2 separate regions of the Homo sapiens genome follow, and region 1 is linked to region 2. The links come from fine-mapping of genetic effects on gene expression. A gene starts in region 2. The other region holds a variant in brackets. All regions are shown on one strand. Distances are between the middles of the regions. Region 1 has its middle 25 kb from the start of TMEM64. Region 2 holds the start of TMEM64 (transmembrane protein 64).

Evidence for each region. PIP is the estimated chance that this variant, and not a neighbour inherited with it, causes the effect.
Region 1: its variant is the best candidate, but not a certain one, in a credible set for the expression of TMEM64 in whole blood (INTERVAL, PIP 0.53).

What each region holds. Positions count from the first base shown.
Region 1 is chr8:90,669,187-90,673,579 of GRCh38, forward strand. No RefSeq gene overlaps it. Among named protein-coding and RNA genes, the nearest start is that of TMEM64, 25 kb to the left of the region's middle. The variant C/T (reference allele first, on the strand shown) is at 2,595.
Region 2 is chr8:90,643,499-90,647,891 of GRCh38, forward strand. It overlaps TMEM64 (transmembrane protein 64), which reads right to left and starts at 2,585. Exons shown (of 3, transcript NM_001008495.4): 1 at 1,613-2,585. The coding sequence starts at 2,407. LOC124906712 (translation initiation factor IF-2) reads left to right here and starts at 2,943. Exons shown (of 2, transcript NR_185471.1): 1 at 2,943-3,135. RefSeq lists an enhancer at 1,612-1,941 and silencers at 2,052-2,451, 2,582-2,991.

The DNA of each region.
Region 1 (4,393 bases), 26 kb after region 2:
TGCAAATATAGAAGATACCAGTATTTTAGTAGTTGGTAAAACCAAGGCAGTGTGTGAGATCATCTAGGAAAAAGATTATCTATCAGTTTTCTAAAGCCCATGCCTTTTTTGAATAAACAGAACACCTTTTCCCCCACCCCATTATCATTGAGAATCTTAGCCTCAACATCCACCTAGTTCCAGCTTTGTTTTTGTGTTCTACATTATAAAACCAACATTTTTGGCTTCATTTTCAAATTACTATAATATTTAACATGCCTTTTCAGACTATATATGTGACACCCCGATGAATAAGAAGAGCAGCCAGCTGAGAAGGGGAACTCTACAAAGCTATTTTTTCAACAGCTGTGACTGACCCACTCACCTCACAGGGTGGGTAAGAGCAGCAAACCATATAGATCTCTACTTATATGAAAACCATGTAGGTAGAGATCTTTGAGACTCAGTATATAAATGCCAGAATTTACACGACACTCTTGCTAAAAACAGATAATATCCATTTCTAAGAATGTGTGCAAAGGGAAATTTTTATGTTAGCACTTGCTTTTGGAAAGTCTAGCATGGTATATTACAGCGATTAGTAGTTCTATTCATTGTAAAATTTCAACCACATAGCTGCAAAGTAACTCACGGTAGATATATTTTATTACCAGCATTCAAACCATTCTCCTCTCTCTTAATATTTAATAGTTCTCTAATTCTAAATTTAGCAAGTCAAGTGGAGCAGCTCATGAACAGTGTAGGTGGTAGTATGGGTATCCTTTATTCAGCGTGGGCAGTCTTGGCTTCACTGTCAAGATTTTGTTGAACTCCATGGATTGGTTTACAAATATGTAATTGCTCTGTATATTATGCTGTTTACAGTGAATGTCAAGGCCTTTACTGACACCAATATCAGTAAAATATATTCTACAAAAAAAACAGCATTTTTTACTTTTAAATCAATAGTTCATGTGTACATTATTTAGAAATTTGAGGGAGATTGGGTTACTGTTTAATGTGTTTTGTCAGAGTGCTAAGAGTATTTCTAAACTCGCCTTAACTAAGTCTCCTCCCCTGATACCTCTGAGAGGTGTATTCTCATAAAGCAAATGATTCAAGGGAGAAAGTAACTAAGCAACAACAGTTAAAAAAAAAAACTTTATTAGTTAGGAATTTAGCTTCAAGCCACTACAAAGCTCTAGTAAGCTTGGCTGAGTACATGAAAGGCTTCTTTTTCCTGAGCTTATTAGGCCTGAATAGCCTCAAGCTAAGGCAGGCTCTTAGGATGCTCTCTCTTCATTTCTTTTCCTTTTCTTAGACTCCAGTGGGCACTAATGGAAATGGAGAGAAAGACAAACAAGATGACCCTGTTAGCTCCCTGTGTACTGCAGATGTGGTGTAGGCTGTGCTCCGAACTTAGAGAGAAGAAGGAAGAGAGGACAACCCCTCTATCCCCAAATTCTCTTCCAACCCTGTTCTGCCAGCCATCTGATTGGAAGCAAGAGGGAAGGGAGGCCTGTGGTGACCTCTCTCTTGACAACAGGGGAAAACCTGACCCTAGAAAAATCAGCTCAATCAATATCATGTGATCTTATCAAAGCAAGCAACCCTACTCCCTAAACTGGTGGAAACGGTGTGAATGTCAACTAGAGTTCTATACTTTAAAAACAACAAAAATATTGCAAATTTTGAGTATCCTTCCTAAAGAAAACAACATATTGTAATCTTGTTTTCTGTTAGATAAATCTCTGTTAAAAAGAAGCTTTGTTGGAACTCTCAAGTCTCTAAAAAATAAATCAGCCATCTTTTGATTGCTTAGGGACCCATGAAAAAGTCTGAGCACACACGCATTCTTTACGATGAGTCTCTGGCACTAAACCAGAGCCCTAGTGAGTGAGGCTGAGTCATGGCATTCCGCAAAGTCTCCTTTTGTGCCGCTGGCCTAAAGCCTAGATGAAAAGAAAGCAAAGAGGCTCCTTTGATTCCACTGCCCTAGGCCTACGCCCTAATTGTTGCTTTCAGAGTCTTGTAACTTCAGCAGTAAGAAGGGGGAAAGTCAAGTTTAAGAAAGAAAAGTGCCAAGGGTAAAAGATCAGTTCTCCTTCATAACGTAAAACTGATCTTACCTGTGTTACCCAGTCATGAGCCATTGGTGTGCATGTGTGAGTGTGTGTGTTGGGGGAAAAGGGAGCATTTTAATATGAAAACTATGTGAAAAGACACACTCTATAAGAGACAAAGAACAGCAAATCCCACAGAATGCTAAAGGTGCCAAAGGTAGAGCTGTTTACTTGTCTGCGAATCTCTTGGAAACCTTCAGCCAACAGCTGACTGGCTCAGCTTCCAAATTGTATCTTCCTTTGGCTCTCTGGCCTTCTCCCACTGAGATACTCATCATGTTGTATTATTCTTCAACAGCCATCATTTTCCTAGACTGGAAGCTACCCGAGGGCCAAAACATGTCTGTCTTGTTCTCCAGCACTTATTAGGCACTCAATAGATTTTGTTTTTCCTGTTGAATGGCATTTAATCATACACTTGACTGTAACCTTTATTCAGAACACTATTGGGGAAGGTATTTAGGGGAGGGCTTCATCATGTCTCCTAAAGCA[C/T]AGAGTCTTTAACCAAGATTAACTCTGGAAGTATTATCATTTAAATAACTGATTATGTTAGGAAAATTAAACTCATAATTACACACACACACACATTTTAATTTGTTAGCCTCTCAGACTAGGTTTTATGAGTCTGTAGCCCAATGAACCATCCTTTTTTTGTATGCTCACTTGTAATTTCATTATGAAAATTTTTGTTTCAGCTAGACTGTAAACCACGAGAGTACAGAAGACTGTGTCTTGTTTACTGCTGGATTCCTTGGGCCCAACACCTGGCCTAACATATATTAGATATTCAATAGCCATTCACTGGATAAATGAATGAAACACTCAGCAATCCCTTTTTGCAGACAAATCAGTAATCTCTTTTTGTCACTTTGCTCATTTGATTACCTCCAGGTTTTCATTCAAAGACCATTAGAGGTCTAATGTGTATGCTAACTATTGTAGTTGCTGCAGCTATTCATGATCAGTTATGTTTATGCTTCAGTAATTCTTATATTTCATTAGAAAGAGAAGGAAAAATAAATTGTTACATTACTATTTCAGAAATTAATTTTAGAAGATATCTGAAACTCAACTCCAAAGTACATACCTCTAACTTTTTGATATTATAAAATGGTGCATACATCTCTATCTGCAATATATAATACATCTATATAATTCTGGACAGTATAATACAGTTTTTACTGCATGAAAATTTATCAATAAAGTTACATATAAGTAAAATTTTAAACTATAGGCCAAATTTATTTTTGTATTTACACATGGTCACAAATAACCCTTGGTGCACAATGGTATTTCTATTCTAGATAATCCCCACAGTTCCACTTATGTAAAGTACCTTACAAAAAGTTCTTTTCAGTATTTAATCTAGACATAGATATCAAAAATGATTCTTCATTTTTTGAATTACTGAATTTTCAACAGATTATACCTTATGTTTAATCAAAAAAGATGAATAGGACTGGAAAAGTCAATTATAAAAGCAGTTGCTGCTTGCTAGTCTTACACAAATTTTTATATTTCTTTAAAGTGGAAATTTGAGACAGCAGAAGATAGTGATAAATTCTTACATATGATGCGTGTGCTTTTTTTTAAAAAAACAAATTTATGTATCATTTTTATGTTAGATGCCTTTTAATTTACATTGTCAAATTATAAGGCCCTCAGTATTAAAAGGAATCCAGAAAGATGTTCGTTCTGAGAAAAAAAAATGGTAATTTAAATACCGTATTGCTATTTAATCCAGGAAAGTTCAACTTTGCTCAATTCATAAACATTTAAACATAATTTATTTCCATAATAGGAACAGCTATGCAGAGGAGGAATGACAAGTAGAAGAGGGGAAAAGGGAAAATATAAACAAAAAAAACAGTACATTTCACACAAAAGCAGAGGAACAGAAAGTGAAATCTGAGACGTGAGTAAAGTACTCTTGTTACACCATGTTAACCACTTAGGCTGTAAGATTCAGCATGTGACACAATTTTCTGAGGCTTTTGAAGTAGTAATACTAATTAGACGATTAAGTATAGTACTATTAACCTTGACCCTGGAAGCTCCAGGAGCTTTCATTAATTATTTATTCATGGAGCTCAGACTATACTACTCTGGAGGTACAGAGATGACTATTTGCCTTCAAGGGATATACAGCCAATTAGAGAAGACAGACAAGTAATCAGAGGATGCTAATATAGTTTAATATGTACTATAATACTGGAAATGCTATTTTGTGGCAAAACATGCTAAGAAAAGAGTCCAAAAACTCTTTTTCAGGATTTCATGTGTTGGATGTT
Region 2 (4,393 bases):
AGTCTATAATATGTGCATAATTAACTTCTGCAGGGCTGGTTTAAGGATCAGAAATATGTGGAAAGAGCCGAGGACAGTAGTTGGCACACGGTAGATGGACAAGAAAAGGCCCAAGGATACATGCTATATTGAAACACAAACTAACAGAATCAATCTATTTAGGTTCCTTAGCCCAACCTTCTTTCAAAGTCCTGGGACAGTTTATTTATTATTACCCAAGACTGGGTCAAAGTTCAAGTTTATATTTCATACTATAGGAGGGTATGAAAAAGAAATTTAAGACTAAGACTATACCAAACTACTGCTAACACTAAACTTTATCTCTACAGAAAACCCCTTATCTGTTTCCACTGCCTCTACCAAATACCATTCCATAGTCATTGCTGCTGTTGCTTGGAATCAAGAGGTTTGCAAAAGGCATTTAAAAGAAAAGAAAAAAGAGAAAGGTTTTAATTTCATCACAAAGAGGCAGATTGGTTAGTATTATTCCTAATTCAAAACAAAATGAGAAAGTTTCCAGAAACTAACAATAATTTACGTTTTGAAACAAAATAATGCATCAGAATCACTTAAAATACATCAATTCCTATGGTTTTGAATGCAATTATCTCTTTATTTCAGTAAGTTTTCTTTAAGTCTAGCTGAAGGGTTAAGTTCCTGGGAATCTACATAAACTCTTGGTAGTTTAGAATCACTGAATTTGGGGAACATGGTAATCTACTTTTTTAAGTCCTTCACTTTCGAAAAGAGAAAAGTGAAGCCAGACAGGGTCAGTAACTTGATCCAAAGTCACAAAGTTTGTAAAGACCAGATTCCTTTCTTCCAATAAGATGATCTCTTCACTAGCAGTGTTTCTATCCTAAATCAGTTGCATGGAGATGCACACTAGCTATAGAAACCTGAGTAAGCAAAACATATGAATACAAGGACAGAAAAGAGTCTATAATGGTGCAGATACAGAAGAAAAATATATGCTAACTGAGCAAAAGATTATCTGTTCTGTTTTATTCACCACCCCGTGATTTCGAAATGAAGTTCCTCCAAAGAAAGAAAGATAAACAGTAGGATTTTCTTCTTTACATCACATTAAAGCACAATTACTTGAAGAAGAAAAAGCCCATTTCAAATTTAGCAAACTCCAAAATCTGGAGTCTGCAACTAGCTCCTCCACTGTTTACTGAAACACTTCCTTTGGTCCATGTCGCTAAAAACTTGAATCAAAACCCTGGATGTATTTATGTAAGCAAGAGAGAAAGCTTTCCTCCCTAAATGTTGCCAAAGCTGCTACAAAAGATGACAAGTATTAAAGATGGGCATTTCCATTCATGTCCCTGCATGCCTATTGTTAAGAGGGCTTTTCATTTTTAATTACATTCCCATCCCTAAAAGAAACATTAGTTTTTTATCTAACAAACTCTCTTTCGAGGCTCCGCGTTAGGTATGTTTTATGTGTAGGACAGACTTCCCAGGCTGCGATGGAAAGTAATCGTAACTCCTGCCGTCAATGTCACTTCTCTGCTGGTATTTATCTGATAGAGCGCCCTCCTAGGGCCGCCACAAGACCGCTCAAAAACAGACTTGGAGAGGGATAGGCCAGCGGGACCCCACTTACCGAAAACACTGCATTCTGAAGCCCAAAAGGTATGGGTGTCAGTCTGGCCAGCGCCACCACTTTCAGGCCGCTTCCTCCCTCCACTACGCGAATAACCGCGCTCAGCTTCTCGCTGCTCTGGATCCTGGCGGCCACCCAGGCGGTGAGGAGCCGCTTGCAGACCACATGGGCGATGAAGGTGCCGATGAGGACGCCCACCATCATCAGACCCATGCCCAGCACGAAGCCGTACAGGTAGCCAGCGGCCACGTTGAGCACGATGTAGCCCCAGCCGCAGGGGAAAGAGACCACGATGAAGCCCACGACGAAGAGCAGGACCCCCAGCAGCGAGTCAAGGCTCTCCACCCACAGCAGGAGGTGGTGAAGGTAGCGGCGGACCAGGGCCAGGGAAGCGAAGCACAGGGCGGCCAACACGCAGACCAGCACGAGGCTCCGGCACCAACAGGTGCTGCCGAGGCAGCAGCAGCGCCAGTTTCTCACCTCAGCCACGCCGACCACCACGCCGCCGCCGCCACTCCCGGGGCCGCCCGCCAAGGCCCCGCCCGGCTCCGGCAGCTCCGAAGCCTCGGGCGGACCGTGGCGCTCCAGATAGGCGCCGAGCAGGGCGCCCGAGGCCGCCGCTGCTGCCGCCGCCGCGCTCGCCCCGCCCCCGCGGGGAAGGCGGTCCGCCGGGCCGTCCCCGCCCGCACCCCGCGGCAGGGCCCAGCGGGCCGGCAGCTCGGCGAGGCCCGGGAGGGCGGCGTGCTGCAGCAGCCGGGGCAGCGCCTGGAGCAGGATCCCGCCCGGGCTCCGCATGCCTCGGCCCAGCGCGGGCCCTCAGCCGGCCAGCCCCTCCGCCGCGGCGCCCGTTAGGCAGCTGCCCTTCATGGCGCCCGGTTCGCCCGGCATCGACTCCCTGCGTCCGCTCAGAGGGTGGGAGACGGCCCGTAGAAGGGCGCGGAGTCAGCGGAGGAGCGACGGCCAGGCGGGGAGTGAGGAAACTCCTGCCCCAGCACCCACGGAGCCCACTCCGGTGGTGCCCGCCCCTTGTCGGCCAGAGGGGGCGGGGCCGCGGGCGATGGGGCGGAGCGGGCTGTGTTCTGGTCCGCTCCCGTGACGCGCTGCCCGCCAGGCTGCGGGGGTCGCGGGGCGTCCGCGTGGGCCAGCGGAGGCCCACAGCTGCGGAGGGAAACCACTGGGAGGGGAGAAGGAGCTCTAGGGAGAGCGAGGCTGCAACGAGGGGAGAGCCGGGCGACGGGCAGGGGCCCAGGCGCGCTCCCCGACTTCCCACAGGCGCGCGCATGCCTGCGTGTCAGGGCGCGCGCTCCCCCTCTCGGACCGAGGCGACCCCAGTCCGTGAGCGGCTTGGATCCTCGCCCGTTCCCTCCTGGTCGTTTCCGCAGTAACCTCTTATCAGAGCGGGCAGCTGTGAGTGGCGCTCACATCCGCCGCTGCCCTGTCGAATGGGGGAAAGAGTTCTTGTGTTCTGAGGAGGGTTTGGCTATGGTCCTTGACCCTATTCTTGTCTCAGACTTGCCTCCCAGGTATCGAGGTCTCCCTGTGGGTTTCATATGGCTTGGTCCTTTAGGAGCTGGAAAAATTAGGCATAAAGTCCCCCCACCCCCTTGACAGAACGCCCCTTCTGACTCCAGAGGTCCTTTATCGAGTGCCAGGCATTGGTCTAGGGGCATTTGAAAAAGATTCACTGAAGGACATTTTTAAGAGTTCGCTTTCTCAGAGGGCAGCTTCTCAAACTCATTCGCTGGTTTCTTTTCCTCTTTCCGCCTGTTTAAGGTTAGTGTTCCCCAGGTCCTCTTGCCGTCTTCCTTTTCAGAGTTTCCTGAGCCATCTCATCCAGGCCCAACAGCTTTGATCCTGCCGTGCCCCCCATAAGAAGTGACCCCTAAGTGAATGTCTCTGCCCACACTTCCCAGCTTGTGGTCCGGCCTGTGGACACATCCAGGTGGAATTCTGCAGGCAGCTCAAACTCAGCAGAGCTTGGTAGATAGATGATCAACTTGGGCTCTGGTGCAAATCACGTTTAGTAACTGGTCAAACAATCAGTCCCTGAATCTCATTGTTTCTTTTTAAATTGCAAAATGGAGATAATGGTACAACTTAGCTTCGTAAGAGTGTTGTGAGGATTAAACAAAATAGTAAAGTAAGGTGATTAGCACTATGCCTGAAATCAGTCGTCAGTAAATGTTAACTATGTGATGGTATCCCTCATTAAAAGTGTGATCCCCCATAGACCGACTCTTCCTTCTGGGTTTCATATCTCAGTGGATGACCTTCCACCCAGTTGCCTGCCAGATAACGGACCAGGACACCTTAGGTCGTTGCTGATCAGGCTCCTGCTTGCTGGCTGATCAGGCTCCTCCATGCCATTCCCTCCTATCCACCCTGGTTGGGCTGAGTCAGGTAGAGTCCCTACTAGGTGCCAGGCAAGTGCTACATCCTTCAACTCTCTTTTCCAAGCCTTGTGACTCACACGGAGGAGCAGCTCTTACTGCTGCCACAGCATTTACCTAAAGTTTTACTTCCGTAAAACAGTACCAAGGAGGGATAGTGCTAAACCATTCATGAGAACTCCATTTCCATGATCCAATCACCTCCCACCAGGCCTCTCCTCCAACAATGGGGATTACATACAGTTTGACATGAGATTTGGGCAGGGACACAAATCCAAACCATATCAGTCCTGCACTACCTTCCCTTCACCATCACCCTCAATTTGGTATTTCCTTTCCTTTCCCAGGCTACTTTCTGTATGGCCATTATCACATTTGTCCCGTTGTATTG